Linked DNA regions of Homo sapiens: regions 2, 3 and 4 are each linked to region 1. The links come from fine-mapping of genetic effects on gene expression. A gene starts in region 1. Each other region holds a variant in brackets. All regions are shown on one strand. Distances are from middle to middle.

Region 1 (4,218 bases):
AAAGTCCCAGGAACAATGTCAGAAGGGAATTACAGTGAAGAAAGAAAGAGTTCAAGTTCCAGCTTACCTAGACTTCCTGCAGAGCCTCGAAAGAGAAGGCAGGGTTGCAGACATCTTTGTTTCATCTGTCCAGCATCCTCTCCCGTGCCTTGGTACTGGGCTTTGAAGCCAGGCTGCCTGGGTTTGCAACTTGCCACTTATTAACAGTGTGACCTTGGGATAAAGGCCCACCTTTCAGAGCCACTATAGATTGGTTATTGGAATTGCTGGTTTTGTTAGGTGTTACAAAATGTCAGGGTTTTTTTTTCTTCTTTTGATGCGTAAACTGAGGTATTAGGGGATAGGAAATGATATGGTGTTTAGAATTTGCTTTAAAACATATTCCAATAAAAGGGCTGGACTCAGTGGTTCATGCCTGTAAACCTAGCACTTTGGGAGGCTGAGGCGGGTGGATCATCTGAGGTCAGGGGTTCGAGACCAGCCTGACCAACAGGGAGAAACACCATCTCTACTAAAAGTACAAAATTAGCCAGGCATGGTGGCACATGCCTGTAATCCCAGCTACTCGGGAGGCTGAGGCAGGAGAATCGCTTGAACCTGGGAGGTGGAGGTTGCGGTAAGCAGAGATCATGCCATTGCACTCCAGCATGTGTAACAACAGTGAAACTCCGTCTCAAAAAAATATATATATATATGTATATATATATATATATAAAACAACAAAAAAAGAAGGTCTCGATGCGGTGGGTGGGGAAGGGCAGAGGAGACAGGTTGATGATGGTTGAAGCGAGGTGCTAAGTACATAGGGTGGGGTTCTTGTGCTCTCCACACTTCTGTGTACTTGAAAATTTTCATAACAAGAGAAAACAAAAAATTAAACAGAAAATGAGGTTTTCATTTCCTCCAGCAAAACAAACATAACAGGGACTTAGGATGTACTTTTCCCAATCGCTCCTCTGGCAGAATATTTTGATCCTCCAGCTAGCTTCCGGCTCTTATCCTGTTCATCTGTTCTGTAGATACTGGCAGGAAATAGGCTCTTCAACAGGGCCTGCTAGGTCCAGTGCTAGGGAGTAGAGCGTTTTGGATTCTACGCCTACATTTTTTTTTAAGTGACCAGTTTTCTAGTTGAGATACTTGAAATACAAAGTCTCATGGTGAGGTCTTACCCTCTGCTGTCCCATTCCTTTTTACAGGCCATCATGGCGTTAATCTTATCTCCAAGGAGAAAAATTGGGAAGAGAGGCCTAGATTCCTCAACAGAAGCGGGAAGGAAAGGTTTGCAGAATGAAGAGTGTGAAGTGAGGTTTGTGGTTTGAATCATCCGAATGTCAAGGAGAAAAGAAGAAAAATGAATCATCATCATTTGACCACGGTATTTACAGCTAGCGGAAGGGACAAGAGGAGAAAAAAGCAAGGGAGGAGATAAAGGAAGAACGTCTCAGAATAAAATTGGGGTGGGTGGGGGGAGGAGGAGGAAGACAGTCTAAGAAATTGGTTTGGTTGCACCAGTACTGGCCACAACACAAAAATTTGTCCATTCCTGGTTGAAATTAAAAATAAATGTGCATGCACATGTATTTGTCTGCTGTGTTTAATCAGATAGCGAGGCACTCCTTTAAGCACCTTGAAGACCCAAAGTTGCGCTCAGAGGCTGCCCACCTGGAACGGAGACCGAGGTTGAGCAGGGAGCTACTCAGAGGACCCAAAGCCGCCTAGCTGACCACCTTCTTCCCTATGAGTTCCCAGTAACGGAGCCCAGTGGAGGAGACGCTACACTTCTCTGTGGGGACAGAGGCTAAGGGCGGGGGTCTCCATAGAGGCGTTAGCGCCCACCAGCGGCAGTGACCGCGCACAGGGAGGTGAAGAATGCGACCACGGTGATACGTCCAACCTGGAAAACGGGCCTGAGAACCAAAGGGCCAACTTCTGGCCATGCATAACGAAGCAGAGCAGTCTCAGGGTAGAAGGCACTGGAAAAGCGTTGTAGGACAATTTTTCCCAGTAGAAACGGTGGGGGTGGGAGGGAGACCCGCTCACCCCTTTTGACCCACCCCTGCAGCTCAGCCACGCCTCCTAGGGAGGTGGGCAGCCTTGCAGGAGCCCGCGCGAGGCTGCAGTACCGCCCTCCGCCACATGAGGGCAGCACGGCCTACCCGTGCAGCAGCGGCGGCCCCCGCGCCCCTCTTGGCCAGAGCCAGGCGCAGGCCGGCTTGCGGTGCCGTCGTTCATTGGCCGCGGCGCGGGCGCTGCCATGTTGGCGGAAGCGGACCCCCCTGTGCCGTGGAAACTGGCGGTGGCCGCGGCCGCCGAGTCGGTCTGCGCAGCCTCCTGCGTTTTCTCGCTTGGATCTTGGCACTGAGAGGCGGTGGCCGGCGGGATGGAGAAAAGTAGGATGAACCTGCCCAAGGGGCCGGACACGCTCTGCTTCGACAAGGACGAGTTCATGAAGGTGCGCGCGGCGTCCGCTCCCCGGAGCCGGGCCATGAGGGTGCCTCTGCCCTGTGCCCTCTGTGGCGGTCTCTTCGGTCGGCTGCTCCTGCCTGCGCACGCTCAGTGTCAGGTCCTCCGCCGAGACCTCGCTGCACTTCGCAATGAGTCTTTTGGCGTCAGGTTTGGCGGGTGCAGCCTGGAGAAAGCACTTCTGTAAAATCGTGCGTGTTACATGGAAAGGCCTGAAAGTTCTGGGCAAGTGGTTTTGAGCTGCATGTCAAAGCCACTGTTACCCGTTCCTGTTACCATGCAGTGCAGTCAGATTGCCAGTCCCCTTGTCGGAAAGAAGCTTGTGGACCGGGGCCTTGGAGCTCATTAAGTGTGTGTTGAATAAATCTCCAAGCCCACGTACTTTCCTAGGGACTCGGGTCGGAAAGAAAAAGAACTTAATCTGAAGTTTTGCTTAACATTCAGCTAAAGCTTCCAGAATGGGATATTTAGAAGCTTAGAACATTCTTACCGACTATTGCAGTACGACAAAGCAAACCATTACTCTTTAAAGAAGTTGCTCTACTTTTTACGTGATGCATTTGAAGAAGTTGGTAGTTGTAGGTCATAAACTTAGAGAAAAGAAATATAAACTGAAAACACTTCACTGATGATAAAGTTCATCAGGCACAGCCTTGAAAATGGCCAGGCTTTGAGTGAGAGCTGGGAGGAGCTTTGCTCCTACTTGGTGTATCCCTCTGGGTCTGCACTTAAGCCATTCAAAAAATGTTTCTATTTAATTTCCTGAGGACTAGGATTTTTGACACCTTTTAGTAGCTGCTTTCAGTGTTAAAAAGCGAAAAGTTTTAGCTGGTTAGTAGACATCTACAATTTTGAGCAAGTGAGTTGAAATCTTACTCTGCCTTTCTTGGTGACATAATGTTTTCTAGATTAATTAGCCTATCTCTTTTTGATAATATTTGCATTCAGATTACATCTCCAAAGCTGTTTTTTTTTAAAGTAGATCTGTATCTTCTCCAGTGTGACCATATCATTTTTCGTATGTAGGACTTATCTATACCCAGGAATAATGTACCTTATTCTTGTAAGTGATATTCCTATTAGACCACTGTACTAAAAGGTGTAACTTCATTAGGATGTCTCAAAGAATGTACAGAATCAACTCATTGATCCAGAAACCCTTCGTTTTGCCTACTGGCTAAGAGCTACCCTGAAATGAGGGTAGAAAGAAACAGCTAAGGGTACATGCTGGGGAGAGGTGCCCTGGAAGAGGAAAGGCCATACACGGAGATCAGGGGCCTTGTTGACGTCAAGAATCTCAGAGTACAGAATAATCTCAGTTTGTCCATCTCTTGACTTCTTAAGGCTCAACACCAGCATCTTCTCTGACTCACTAGCCCCACCACCTTTCCCACTCTGAGTTGACAGAATGCCTTTGGTAAATGCAGCTTCAGGAAGTGAAATCACAGAAATACAAGTTCTAAAATAGAACTTAGAGTGCAAACTGGGGTGGTGGCTGGAATGCCAGCAATTGCATATTTCGTGGCTCTGTGAATATGCGGTACATTTTGTAGTGCTTATAAAAGTGACAACATACATAGAAGAAAATACATAGAACAGCTGTTCTGTGTAAAATTTTGTTGATTTTTTAGGTGGAGCTTGAAGATAAAGGTTATTTGCAATTTGTGTTGCCTTAAACATATAAAACTACATATAAGTTGCACTTCCATGGCAGAAAGGATGGTTGGAACACTTGTCCAGGCTATATTTCTATGT
Region 2 (4,000 bases), 42 kb after region 1:
TTAATATCAGTTGGATAAATTGATATTGAGCATGCATCAGAATTCATTACTAGTAAGGCAATTAGCAGGTGACAAAAGAGCATGCTAGTAAAGAGATATATGAAATTGCAAGAGTTATATAGTTAGAAAACAATGCCTGCAAAAGCAGCTAGCTTAAAAAAACTATATAACACATTTGCCTTTCACAAAGTCATAAAAACATGTCCATATCCATTATTAGAACAGAAGTCTGTGACAGGATGAGCTGAGGTGCCAGGTGAGCCAGCTGTCATCAGGGAAAAAAGAACGCACATCTAGGAAGCGCTGGTACAGACAGCCGTAGAACCCGAAGGGCAAGTACCATGGACGTGGGAGAGGGTCACAGATTAGAAGAGCACCAAGCAGTGAGTTCTAGTTTTAACTGGCCACTTCCTGTGATTTTTCTCAAGCTGCCAACACAGGTACAGAATGCAGCTTTCTTAGCTTGGGGACGTTTACCTTCCTGTGATGGTGTTAAGATAGATGGGTTGGAGGAACCAAAGTTTTATGGCCTTGAAGTGAATAGAGGATCATAATCAGGTGCTGCTCACCAGCAACAACTTCTTGATGGAGACTTAACTGGCAGTTTGTTTAATTTGAGAAACATGGGGTAAGTTATGATTCAGACCAGCTGCAAATAACAGAGAACCCTTATATAACAGTGGCTTAGTCACGATTTCTTGTTCAGTTAAAAAAAAAAAAAAAAAAAAGCCTGGGAGAATAGGCATTCCGAGGCTGGACTTACCAGTGAGTGACAGAGGAAGTTCCTGTTACTTAGGAAAAACAGAGAATGGATAGGGAAAGGCATCTGTCAGAGTCATAAACATTAATTCTTCTTCTTGTTTTTATCTCAGATTTAGAGAAATAGCGGGATCCTTAGAAGCAGCACTTACAGATGTCCTGGAAGATGCCCCAGGTAACTCCCTTAAAGTGATAAGTGGCATGGTATCCTAAATGAGTTCATTCAGTTCACCAAGTCATCTGGATTGCAGTATTCTGAGCGTACTTTTACTGTTTTTTTTTTTTAATCATACAGTAAGTTGGACCTTAAAAATCACTTAGTTTGACTTCTTTTTTTTGCTTTTTTTTTGAGATGGAGTCTCGCTGTGTTGCCCAGGCTGGAGTGCAATGGCATGATCTTGGCTCACTGCAGCCCCCGCCTCCCAGGTTCAAGCTATTCTCCTGGCTTAGCCTCGAAAGTAGCTGGGATTACAGGTGTACACCACCACGCCTAGTTAATTTTTTTATTTTTAGCAGAGACAGGGTTTCACCATGTTGGCCAGGCTGGTCTCGAACTCTGACCTCAAGTGATTCACCCCCCCTTGGCCTTCCAGAGTGCTGGGATTACAGGCATGAGCCACCACACCCAGCCTGACTTCTTTTTTTAATAAGGTAAAAATAAACCAAATAGTTTTGGTGTATAGAGTTCTTGCTTTATAGAGATGAAAAATGAATAAGAATATAGGAAACAGACCTCATTTTCATTCCTGAATATAACTTGTCCAGGGGATATGGCCCCTTGGTGTGCTTATGTGAACAGCTGGTTTTTTTTAGC[A/G]AATTGGCTGTGATCTGCCTTCCTCCCAGGCTGAGGACTGGTCTGCATGGTAGAGGGTCAGGTGCTCCTGCGTCTCACTGAGAATGACTCACAGCTGGAGCATGCATCCTGGGCCTCCTGTGCCCTGGCCGCCCATCCTAGGATGTTGGGCAGGTAACAGTTGTAGGTATGTGGACTTACCAGTACATGTTGACATACCCTTTCAGCCTCATTAATTTTTGTATCATATATTTATTCCTAGTGACCACTGAAATACTGTGTGCTGATATCTAGGTTCCTCAACTTAAATTTCCACTCTCTTTTATACAGCTAAGTCTACTGTCATTTTGAATCAATTTTAGCCTCAGAGTTAGTTTTCATCTGTCTTTGCCAAAAATGGTCATATGTAGTTAACTTCTTCTATAAAAATAAGAAGTATGTTGAGATAGAGGAAGACTCTTGTGAAATAGGACAAATTTGAAACTGAAGTTTAAACCTCTGCAAGTGATTGCCACTCCAGCCCATGTTTGTCGATTTGGTATGAAGTACCTATTAAACGTTATTTCTGAATGCTATATGTATTTGATGTTTATCCAAACACCTGGGAGATAGTGTCATGTAAAATTGTGCGTGGCATGAAGGATGTGGTAGGGAACTTGGATTGTGGCCACTCGTCATCCCTGTGCCTCCAACAGCTTTGCTGACCACATGGTTTTCTTCAGAAGGCCATTTTCTTTACCTTTGAATCGTACATCGGAAGTCTCACATTAGACTATAGCCTAAAATTGCCTGAAATTCCTTAAATGTGTGTTGTTGTTGTTTTTTCTCTAGCTGAAAGTCCGTATTGCCTTTTGGCTTCTCATAGAACTTGGAGCAGCCTTAGGAGGTGTTGGTCAGATGAGATGTTCTTGCCATTACTGGTGCATCGCCTGTGGAGACTCACTCTGCAGATTTTGGCACGATACTCTGTGTTTGTCAATGAGGTAAGGGCTGGCTGTGGAGCTCATCCATAATCAATACTGATAAAAATTAAAGATATGTTAGGCTAACTCCCTAAGATTTTTGTAAATACCATGAGAGGTTAATTCAGAGGACCACAGTAGTCTGACTTCCCAAGATTGTCTCCAGCTCTGTGTCTGTGTTTCATTTTTACTCCTGCGAGCATTGCATTTAGGGGTGTCTATTATCACAAACTTATTTTGTTGAAAAGCACCACTCTGGCAAGTCCATTTTTTTCCTTCTCAAAACCAGAATCTTTGAACTGCCTCCAAATTTAAAAAAAGAAAAAGATGTTCATTTTAATTTCAAGGTGATTATGAAAATGATTAGAAATAAAAATATATGCATTTTAATACTTAATATTTGGAAGTTTACAAAATGATATTGTCATCAACATAAAAAGGTATTAAAATTCTTTTTTTGAATATCCTTTTCCCTTTTCAAATAATCAAATATATTAAATATCCACATGCTCTGATGACTTATTAATACCCTACAAAAACCCAGAAATTCTTGATCCACAAGGGCGTTGGTCCAGTCCTGTGCTGAGCACCAGCCCGGCGGGTCCTTGCTGGGACCTCGGATTGCAGTGCTGCCCTTTCTCTGGGGACAGCGTGAGTAACAGACACTCAGGTAAACCAGTCATCGCAGTGTGAGGAGTATGCAAAGGAGATGTGTTCTAAAAAATAAAAAAGACAACAGGGAGAAAACAGCACACTTTGAGTAAAATCTTTGTAATTTGGAGTAGGAAAGGATCCCAGTCATCCTCTTGCAGTGTATTTTAATGGAAAGAGTGTCAGCTTTGGAGCTAATGTCAAACGTTGGCTCTTTAACTTTTTAATTCTGTGGACCTGGAGAAATTAAGCTGAGTCTTCATCTGGAGAATGGGAAAACAGCTTCTATATGTGGCTGTTGTGAGGATTTATTTGGACTAAAGCTCCTGTCAGGTAATGGGAGTCTAGTGAAATCTAGTTTGTGTTTCCCTTTTGCCTTTCCTCCGCTCAGAAGGGTCTTAGTGGACCACCCTGGGCTGTCAGCTGTTTCTGAAGACCACTGTATGATTCCCCTGACAGAGTGGGGTTAGGACGATTATTCAATTAGGCTAAGCATGCGTTCTTGCTAGCCAGGAATTCTCCGTTTATCTCTAGTAGATCACTTTGCCCTGAATGTTCATTATCCCATTCTATCCCATTCTTTTCTTGATGCTAGCTTACTTCTCTTTGATTTTTTTCCCTTATAAACAATGTGACACAAAGAACACTTTGTTTTTTGTATTTGAAGGTTTGGATTTTGATATTTTACCCTTGTTAATTATAATTACAAATGTATTACGCTATGTTATTTGCCTAATATAATTGATTTTTTTAAAACCTGTGATGTCCCCAAAATTAATTTTATTGTGGTTTGGGCACTTTATTTTTCACGTTATTTTTATCACCAGAAATTAGA
Region 3 (4,218 bases), 38 kb before region 1:
TTATTTCCACAGCCTGACCTCGTATCTCTGTGCCCTGACCCCTTTCCAGCTTTTCTGGAGGGTAAGAACCCCCAAACCCCTTCCCTCTCTGTCTCTACTCTCTCTTTTCTTTAGACTTGCCTCCTTCACTATAGGCAACCTTCCACCCTCCATTCCTCCTTCTTCTCCCTTAGCCTGTGTTCTTAAGAACTTAAAACCTCTTCAACTCTCACCTGACTTAAAACCTAAATGCCTTATTTTCTTCTGCAATGCTGCTTGACCCCAATACAAACTCGACAGTAGTTTCAAATAGCTGGAAAATGGCACTTTCAATTTTTCCATCCTACAAGATCTAAATAATTCTTGTCGTAAAATGGGCAAATGGTCTGAGGTGCCTGACATCCAGGCATTCTTTTACACATCAGTCCCTTCCTAGTCTCTGTGCCCAGTGCAACTCGTCCCAAATCTTCCTTCTTTCCCTCCCTCAGTCCCAACCCCAAGCATCACTGAGTCTTTCTAATCTTCCTTTTCTACAGACCCATCTGACCTCTCCCCTCCTCACCAGGCCGAGCTAGGTCCCAATTCTTCCTCAGCCTCTGCTCCTTCACCCTATAATCTTTTTATCACCTCCCCTCCTCACACCTGGTCCGGCTTACAGTTTCCTTCCATGACTAGCCCTCCCCCACCTGCCCAGCAATTTACTCTTAAAAAGGTGGCTGGAGCTAAAGGCATAGTCAAAGTTAATGCTCCTTTTTCTTTATCCCAAATCAGATAGCGTTTAGGCTCTTTTTCATCAAATATAAAAATCCAGCCCAGTTCATGGCTTGTTTGGTGGTAACCCTGAGAGGCTTTACAGCCCTAGACCCTAAAAGGTCAAAAGGCCATCTTATTCTCAATATACATTTTATTACCCAATCTGCTCCCGACATTAAATAAAACTCCAAAAATTAGAATCTGGCCCTCAAACCCCACAACAGGACTTAATTAACCTCACCTTCAAGGTGTACAATAATAGAAAAAAGTTGCAATTCCTTGCCTCCACTGTGAGACAAACCCCAGCCACATCTCCAGCACACAAGAACTTCCAAATGCCTGAACCACAGCAGCCAGGTGTTCCTCCAGAACCTCCTCCCCCAGGAGCTTGCTACAAGTGCCAGAAATCTGACCCCCAGGCCAAGGAATGTCTGCAGCCCAGGATTCCCCCTAAGCCATGTCCCATCTGTGCGGGACCCCACTGGAGATCAGACTGTTCAACTCACCTGGCAGCCACTCCCAGAGCCCTGAGAACTCTGGCCCAAGGCTCTCTGACTGACTCCTTCTCGGCTTAGCGACTGAAGAGTGACGCTGCCTCATCGCCTTGGAAACCCCCTGGACCATCACGGACGCCAAGCTTTGGGTAACTCTCACAGTGGAGGGTAAATCCATCCCCTGTTTAATCGAAACGGGGACTACCCACTCCACGTTGCCTTCTTTTCAAGGGCCTGTTTCCCTTGCCTCCATAACTGTTGTGGGTATTGACAGCCAGGCTTCTAAACCTCTGAAAACTCCCCAACTCTGGTGCCAACTTAGACAATGCTCTTTTAAGCACTCCTTTTTAGTTATCCCCACCTGCCCAGTTCCCTTATTAGGCCGAGACACTTACTAAATTATCTGCTTCCCTGACTATTCCTGGACTACAGCTGCATCTCATTGCCACCCTTCTCCCCAACCCAAAGCCTCCTTTGCGTCTTCCTCTCATATCCCCCCACCTTAACCACAAGTATAGGACATCTCTACTCCTTCCCTGGCAACCGATCACATGCCCATTACCATCCCACTAAACCTAATCACCCTTACCCCACTCAACGCCAATATCCCATCCCACCGCACGCTTTAAAAGGATTAAAGCCTGTTATCACTGACCTGCTACAGCATAGGCTTCTAAAACCTATAAACTCTCCTTACAATTCCCCCATTTTACCTGTCCAAAAACCCGACAAGTCTTACAGATTAGTTCAGGATCTGCGCCTTACCAACCAAATTGTTTTGCCTATCCACCCTGTGGTGCCCAACCTGTACACTCTTTTGTCCTCAATACCTTCCTCCACAACTCACTATTCTGTGCTTCATCTTAAAGATGCTTTTTTCACTATTCCCCTGCACCCCTCATCCCAGCCTCTCTTTGCTGTCACCTGGACTGACCCTGACACCCAACAGTCCCAGCAGCTTACCTGGGCTGTGCTGCCGCAAGGTTTCAGGGACAGCCCTCATTTACTTCAGCCAAGCTCTTTCTCATGATCTACTTTCTTTCCACCCCTCTGCTTCTCACCTTATTCAATATATTGATGACCTTCTTCTTTGTAGCCCCTCCTTTGAATCTTCTCAACAAGACACACTTCTGCTTCTTCAGCATTTATTCTCCAAAGGATATCAGGTATCCCCCTCCAAAGCTCAAATTTCTTCTCCATCTGTTACCTATCTCTGCATAATTCTCATAAAAACACACATGCTCTCCCTGCTGATCATGTCCAATTAATCTCCCAAACCTCAATCCCTTACAAAACAACAACTCCTTTCCTTCCTAGGCATGGTTAGTGCCGTCAGAATTCTTACACAAGAGCCAGGACC[G/A]CACCCTGTAGCCTTTCTGTCGAAACAACTTGACCTTACTGTTTTAGCCTAGCCCTCATGTCTGTGTGCAGCAGCTGCTGCTGCTTTAATAATTTTAGAGGCCCTAAAAATCACAAACAATGCTCAACTCACTCTCTACATTTCTCATAACTTCCAAAATCTATTTTCTTCCTCATACCTGACGCATATACTTTCTGTTCCCCAGCTCCTTCAGCTGTACTCACTCTTTGTTAAGTCCCACAATTACCATTGTTCCTGGCCTGGACTTCAATCCAGCCTCCCACAGTATTCCTGATACCACACCTGACCCTCATGATTGCATCTCTCTGATCCACCTGATGTTCATCCTATTTCCCCACATTTCCTTCTTCCCTGTTTCTCACCCTGATCACGCTTGATTTATTGATGGCAGTTCCACCAGGCCTAATCACCACACATCAGCAAAGGCAGGCTATGCTATAGTACAAGCCACTAGCCCGCCTCTTTGAACCTTTCATTTCCTTTCCATTGTAGAAATCTATCCTCAAGGAAATAACTTCTCAAGTGTTCCATCTGCTATTCTATCTGCTATTCTACTACTCCTCAAGGATTATTCAGGCCCCCTCCCTTCCCTACACATCAAGCTCAAGGTTTTGCCCCCACCCAGGACTGGCAAATTAGCTTCACTCAACATGCCCCAAGTCAGATAACTAAAATACCTCTTAGTCTAAGTAGACACTTTCACTAGATAAGTAGAGGCCTTTCCTACAGGGTCTGAGAAGGCCACCACAGTCATTTCTTCCCCTCTGTCAGACATAATTCCTCAGTTTAGGCTTCCCACCTCTATACAGTCTGATGACAGACCAGCCTTTACTAGTCAAATCACCCAAGCAGTTTCTCAGGCTCTTGGTATTCAGTGGAACCTTCATATCCCTTACCATCCTCAATCTTCAGGAAAGGTAGAATGGACTAATGGTCTTTTAAAGGTAAACCTCACCAAGCTCAGCCTCCAACTTAAAAAGGATTGGACAGTACTTTTACCTCTTGCTCTTCTCAGAATTAGAGCCTGTCCTTGAGATGCTACAGGGTACGGTCCATTTGAACTTTTATATGGACACACTTTCTTGCTTGGCCCCAACCTCATCCCAGACACCAGCCCTCTAGGTGACTATCTTCCAGTCCTCCAGCAGGCTAGACAGGAAATTCACCAGGCTGCTAATCTTCTCTTGCCTACTCCAGATCCCCAGCCATATGGAGACATCCTAGCTGGATGATCAGTTCTTGTTAAGAATCTGACCCCTCAAACTCTACAACCTCGATGGACCGGATGCTACCTCGTCTTCTATAGTACCCCGACTGCCGTCTGCCTGCAGGATCCTCCCCACTAGGTTCACCATTCCAGAATAAAGCTGTGTCCATCGGACAGCCAGCCTAATCCCTCCTCTTCCTCCTGGAAGCCGCAAGTACTCTCCCCTACTTCCCTTAAACTCACTCATATTTCTGAAGAGCAGTAATAACCCTTATGAGCCTAATACATCCCTTCATTCTATTAGGTCTGTTCGTCCTTACCCTACTTTTTGCAACAGGGCTTTACGAAGTCACCCCAACCACTTAGGCCGAGCCCAAAAAAACTAGTCATCCCTACTATCTTCT
Region 4 (4,218 bases), 52 kb after region 1:
TTCCTATAAAACACAAATTTTAGAATCATGGCACGTAGTTGAATGGTAATGTGGATATTATCACTTAAGAGGTGATATGGATAAGGTGCAATGAATGTCTTTTCATTTTTCACTGAGGTGAAAATGAAATTTCACCATAAAATGAAATTTTATGATACTGTGAGGACAGTATCATAAAACCTCTAGATGTTCAGAAACTGGCCTTCTAAACTGTTAAAGCGTCGCACATAGTAGTAGGTCCTCAAGGGAGGCCTTTCCACAGGGAAAAAAAGTGAAATCATAAAGTTTCCACAAGAGGACACTTGGTGGTGTTTTGGAGAACTGATACAATGTTAATAGAAAAAGAAAAAAAAAAAAGCAGTCAAAACAAGACACTTGATTTTCTAGCTCACTAAGGAATTTCTTTTACACATCATGATCATCACTGAAAATTCAACTTTTTTCTGCTTTGAGATGAATTTAGAGATATATCCCGGTAAAAGTCAACTGCCATGTTTCTTTATTTGGCAAAAAAACCCAAAGACTTTTTACAAGCAAGAAAGTATGTTATAGAAACGTGAAGAGCCAATGAGCAAAAGAAAGGGAAGGAAGGAAGGAGAGTGGGATAGGGAACTAAAAGGAAAGAGAGGGGAAGGAAAAGGTGCTCCCGCAGTCTCGGTCCCCAGAACAAACCACAAAATGCTGACAGAGACTTGGTGTGTATCTTCCCGGATCTTTCTCTGTGCGTGTGTGTGGTGCGTGTGTGTGTGTGCGTGTATGGATGTATACGTGTGTGTGTGTTGTTATTGTCGTTTTTAAACAAAAGTGGGAACGTAGTGTGCCATGTCTCGGTGACCAAAATAATCCACGGTAGTTGCTTTGCCAAACAAAGTGTTTTCAACTCATCTGATTCTAAAAGGTTTTTGGCAATATGTTAAGAAACTAAGAGCACAGACCAGTACTTTTTTGAAAATTCTCTACTTAAAAGTTCACTTTTTTATTTCCTCTAGTGTGGATTTTCTTTTCTAGAATGTTTTTAGGCCCACAAAAGAGGCTTTTATTCTGTCTGATTTGATGAACTGAGATAAATTAACATACTGGCTTCTTAGAATGCTAAGTGTTTGACCCCAAAATCCTCACATTTTACAACAAGTAAATCCTTTGCTCTAGAGGAAAAAATATCCTACAAGTCTTCAGGGAACTGTCTTCTGGTTTAGTAGAGGATGAAGATTTTCTTTCTTTTTTTTCCCCCCCCATATTCAGCTTGAATTGCAGTAACATAATTCATTCTCATGGCCTTTGCAGATACAAAAGTTGGGACTACAAGCAAGTGACATAAAAAGCTTCTCAGCTCTCGCAGAGCTTGTTGCTGCTGCCAAGGACCAGGCAACAGCAGAGCAGCCTTAAGCATCTTGGAAGATCCCGAGGTTAGATTCTTAAGCAAGAGAAGAGTTGGACTTCCAGGCTGAAGGGGAGAAAGTGACTCTGTTCTCTTAGCAACCGTCTGTAGCAAAGAAGTGCTTCCAGCATCACTCCAGCAACACGCCCATGCGTCTTCTCTCAGCGTATTTGGGTCTTCTTTGCCCAAAAGAACACAAAAGCCTTTTTCCATTGTATGGAAGATAGTTTTTAAGACATTTGAAACTTTCTACTATAGTTTACAGAACAAATTATTTTATTTTTATTGTAAATCTTAGTGTGGAAGAGCTGATTTCTAAAATATGATTAAAGTAAATATATACCTATGAATATCAAGAGTCGTCTCCCTGAGCCTGTAGTTGGAAGTGACGACTGTAATGGAATGATGTCTTGTATAGAAATGCCCTTCTCTGAAATAAAGAGAACTCCTGGGCTTTCTAAAGAGGCTGCGGGAAGCCATCCTCCACTCCCACTGTGTGTGAGAGCAGTGCTTCTGATCCTGCTGTCACCCCGACCTCTGGCAGGAGCCGGCGCCAGTAGGAAAGACCTCCTTCCTAAATAAAAGAAGTGTCTCC[CA/C]TGAGTGTGTGCTCGTTTTCTTTGGGAATTCCCCACCAGGGAAGCACTCCTCGTCACTCATGCCCTGTAATGACACACATTCCCTTCCAGGCGGATGCTCCTCTTAGCACTGATGGGAAGGGTCCTGGCCAGCACTGACCCTTTCTTTCGATGTGTGGAAGTTCCTTTCCTTGGAGGGGTAACACCTTCCTTAGGAGTCGGCAGGCCCTTCCTGGCAAGCTGATGTGGGTAGAAGGAAAGAAGACTGCCCTGAGAAGAAGAGATGGAAGCACTGGGGAGAGGCACTCCAAGACTGGTTGGTTGGTTGAACTCACATAGGCAGCATGGAGTGCCGTGCAGCCCCCGCCTAGCTGTGGCTTGGGCCCTCCCAGCCTGATGAGGAGCTGGAAGCAGCTATGTTGAGTCCTTAGTCTTGCATTCCCGTGCATCTCAGTCCCTTCTTTGTTCAAAGGTTAGCCCTGGGGAGAGGAAGTAAATGGTAGGGAATGAGAGCAGGTCCTGTAGTTAGCAGGCTTGAGTTTTTTAGCACAGACCGGGATGAGGAGGGCTAGAGAAGTCAGAGGAAACCCCAGTGGTGAAAGCACCAAGAGCCAGGTGTGTGTGGAGCCCCAGGGGCTTCCACGCAGCCCCCAGCCTGCCACAAAGAGGGGCTTGCACTTTCTGTTTGCAGGTAACAGACACTGGACAGTGGCGCCCTGTGTAGAGAGCATCTGCTTTGGGCTTAGGACTGGAGGCCCTGCCCCTGGAGGGGGAAGTGTCCAGTTCTGGAGTTCACTGTTGGGAAATTTGGTCAGTGACAGAACCATGGGAGAGAGACAGAGAAGGGATTTCTTCTCAGGGCTTGACCTCCCTGGTGTGGGAGCCGGCTCACCTGGCAGGGCTGTGGTAGGGTGGGGTACCATCAGCAGGGGGCCAGCGGAAGGAAAGACGGGCGTGCAGTGGGGGAGAGAGAATGAACTGGAACCCGTGGGGATAAATGGAGCCCGCATCTGGCTCTTGCTGCCTCCTGGTCTCCCCATTTCAGTGATGGGGTGATGTGCAGAGGAAGCTGCACATGCACTTGGCCCAGCATTCAGGGAAGCTGAAGGAAGAGACCCAGCAGGAGCTGGAGGAGTTGCATGCCTGCCTCCCGCCCCAAGCCAGCAGGAGAGCCTGCAGCTCTGAGTCAATATGCAAGAGCTGCAGTGGAGCCTGGGCTGCAGCAGCCTGCTGCATATCAGCATGCAGCCACCCCACCCCACCTCCTGCAGCTGTTTCCTGTGACCAAGGCCAACCTCAAACCATCCCAGGAAGGGAGTCGTGGGGAACACAGGTCCAGCCTCGCTAAGCCGATCCAGTGCAAAGCTACCTCAGTAGCCACATGGAGGTAAACTACTTCCTCCACTCCAGCCTTCATCAATAGACCCCAAATGTTTGTCCCCATCTCCCTGAGTGCTCTGCCCTTCTCATTTATTTTAGAACATAGGAGGAGAGGGTTATGACTTAACAGCCCATCCAACTCCAGCATTATTATTCTCATTTTACAGATGAGGAAACGGACAGCTTAGGTCATCAAGATAACTAATAAGTAGGGTTGAAACCCAAGCAAGATAATTCCAGAGCCTGGTTTACTAATTGTTACATAATTCTTCATCCCTAAAATCAGCACTACAACAAAGTTGACAGTCAAGAATTGGAACGCAAGTTGTTGATTTCTTTGACCCTGTCAAGCCCCAGGCTGGCCCTGGACTCAGCACACTGCCTTTCTCAGTGACAGCCCTGATGCCATAACACCTATTTCTAAGAAACACGCCTGTAATCCCAGCACTTTGGGAGGCCGAGGTGGGCGGATCACCTGAGGTCAGGAGTTCGAGACCAGCCTGGCCAACGTGGTGGAACCCCGTCTCTACTAAAAATAAAAAATTAGCTGGTCATGGCAGCACGTGCCTGTAGTCCCAGCTACTCAGGAGGCTGAGGCGGGAGAATCACTTGAACCTGGGAGGCAGAGGTTGCAGTGAGCCAAGATCATGCCACTGCACCCTACCCTGGGCAACAGTGTGAGACTCCGTCTCAAAGAAAAAAAGAAAAAGGAAAGAGACAAGAATCTTTAAGTAAAGTGAAAGGCTTCAGAGCCTTTGTCCATGGTTCCCCCAGAACATCTCTCCTTTCTTTGGTATGTGTTTTATTTGCTTTGCTTTGGAGAAATTACTATTGAATAAAGCTTAAAGATGAAATAATACTTACATACTGTAAACCTGTCATTAG

Alleles and levels. Positions count from the first base shown, and alleles are read on the strand shown. Sizes are in standard deviations (SD) of each study's normalised expression. Not every link is listed here.
With allele A in place of G in region 3, the expression in monocytes of the gene that starts at base 2,255 in region 1 is higher (moderate effect, 0.71 SD a copy in BLUEPRINT).

What was found. PIP is the estimated chance that this variant, and not a neighbour inherited with it, causes the effect. A credible set is the group of variants that fine-mapping cannot tell apart.
Region 2: its variant is the best candidate, but not a certain one, in a credible set for the expression of COG2 in thyroid (GTEx, PIP 0.79).
Region 3: its variant is the best candidate, but not a certain one, in a credible set for the expression of COG2 in monocytes (BLUEPRINT, PIP 0.85).
Region 4: its variant is the best candidate, but not a certain one, in a credible set for the expression of COG2 in whole blood (TOPMed, PIP 0.55).

The regions. Positions count from the first base shown.
Region 1 is chr1:230,640,227-230,644,444 of GRCh38, forward strand. It overlaps COG2 (component of oligomeric golgi complex 2), which reads left to right and starts at 2,255. Exons shown (of 18, transcript NM_007357.3): 1 at 2,255-2,452. The coding sequence starts at 2,381. It overlaps LOC124904545 (a long non-coding RNA gene), which reads right to left and starts at 471. Exons shown (of 2, transcript XR_007066935.1): 1 at 68-471. RefSeq lists silencers at 2,049-2,188, 3,802-3,921 and an enhancer at 2,279-2,498.
Region 2 is chr1:230,682,702-230,686,701 of GRCh38, forward strand. It overlaps COG2 (component of oligomeric golgi complex 2), which reads left to right. Exons shown (of 18, transcript NM_007357.3): 11 at 873-934; 12 at 2,384-2,535. Among named protein-coding and RNA genes, the nearest start is that of AGT, 29 kb to the right of the region's middle. The variant A/G (reference allele first, on the strand shown) is at 1,574.
Region 3 is chr1:230,602,377-230,606,594 of GRCh38, forward strand. It overlaps LOC107985357 (a long non-coding RNA gene), which reads right to left and starts at 2,457. Exons shown (of 4, transcript XR_007066934.1): 1 at 2,288-2,457. LOC124904544 (a long non-coding RNA gene) reads left to right here. Exons shown (of 3, transcript XR_007066932.1): 3 at 3,805-4,218. The variant G/A (reference allele first, on the strand shown) is at 2,587.
Region 4 is chr1:230,692,008-230,696,225 of GRCh38, forward strand. COG2 (component of oligomeric golgi complex 2) reads left to right here. Exons shown (of 18, transcript NM_007357.3): 18 at 1,285-1,975. The coding sequence ends at 1,386. Among named protein-coding and RNA genes, the nearest start is that of AGT, 20 kb to the right of the region's middle. The variant CA/C (reference allele first, on the strand shown) is at 1,974.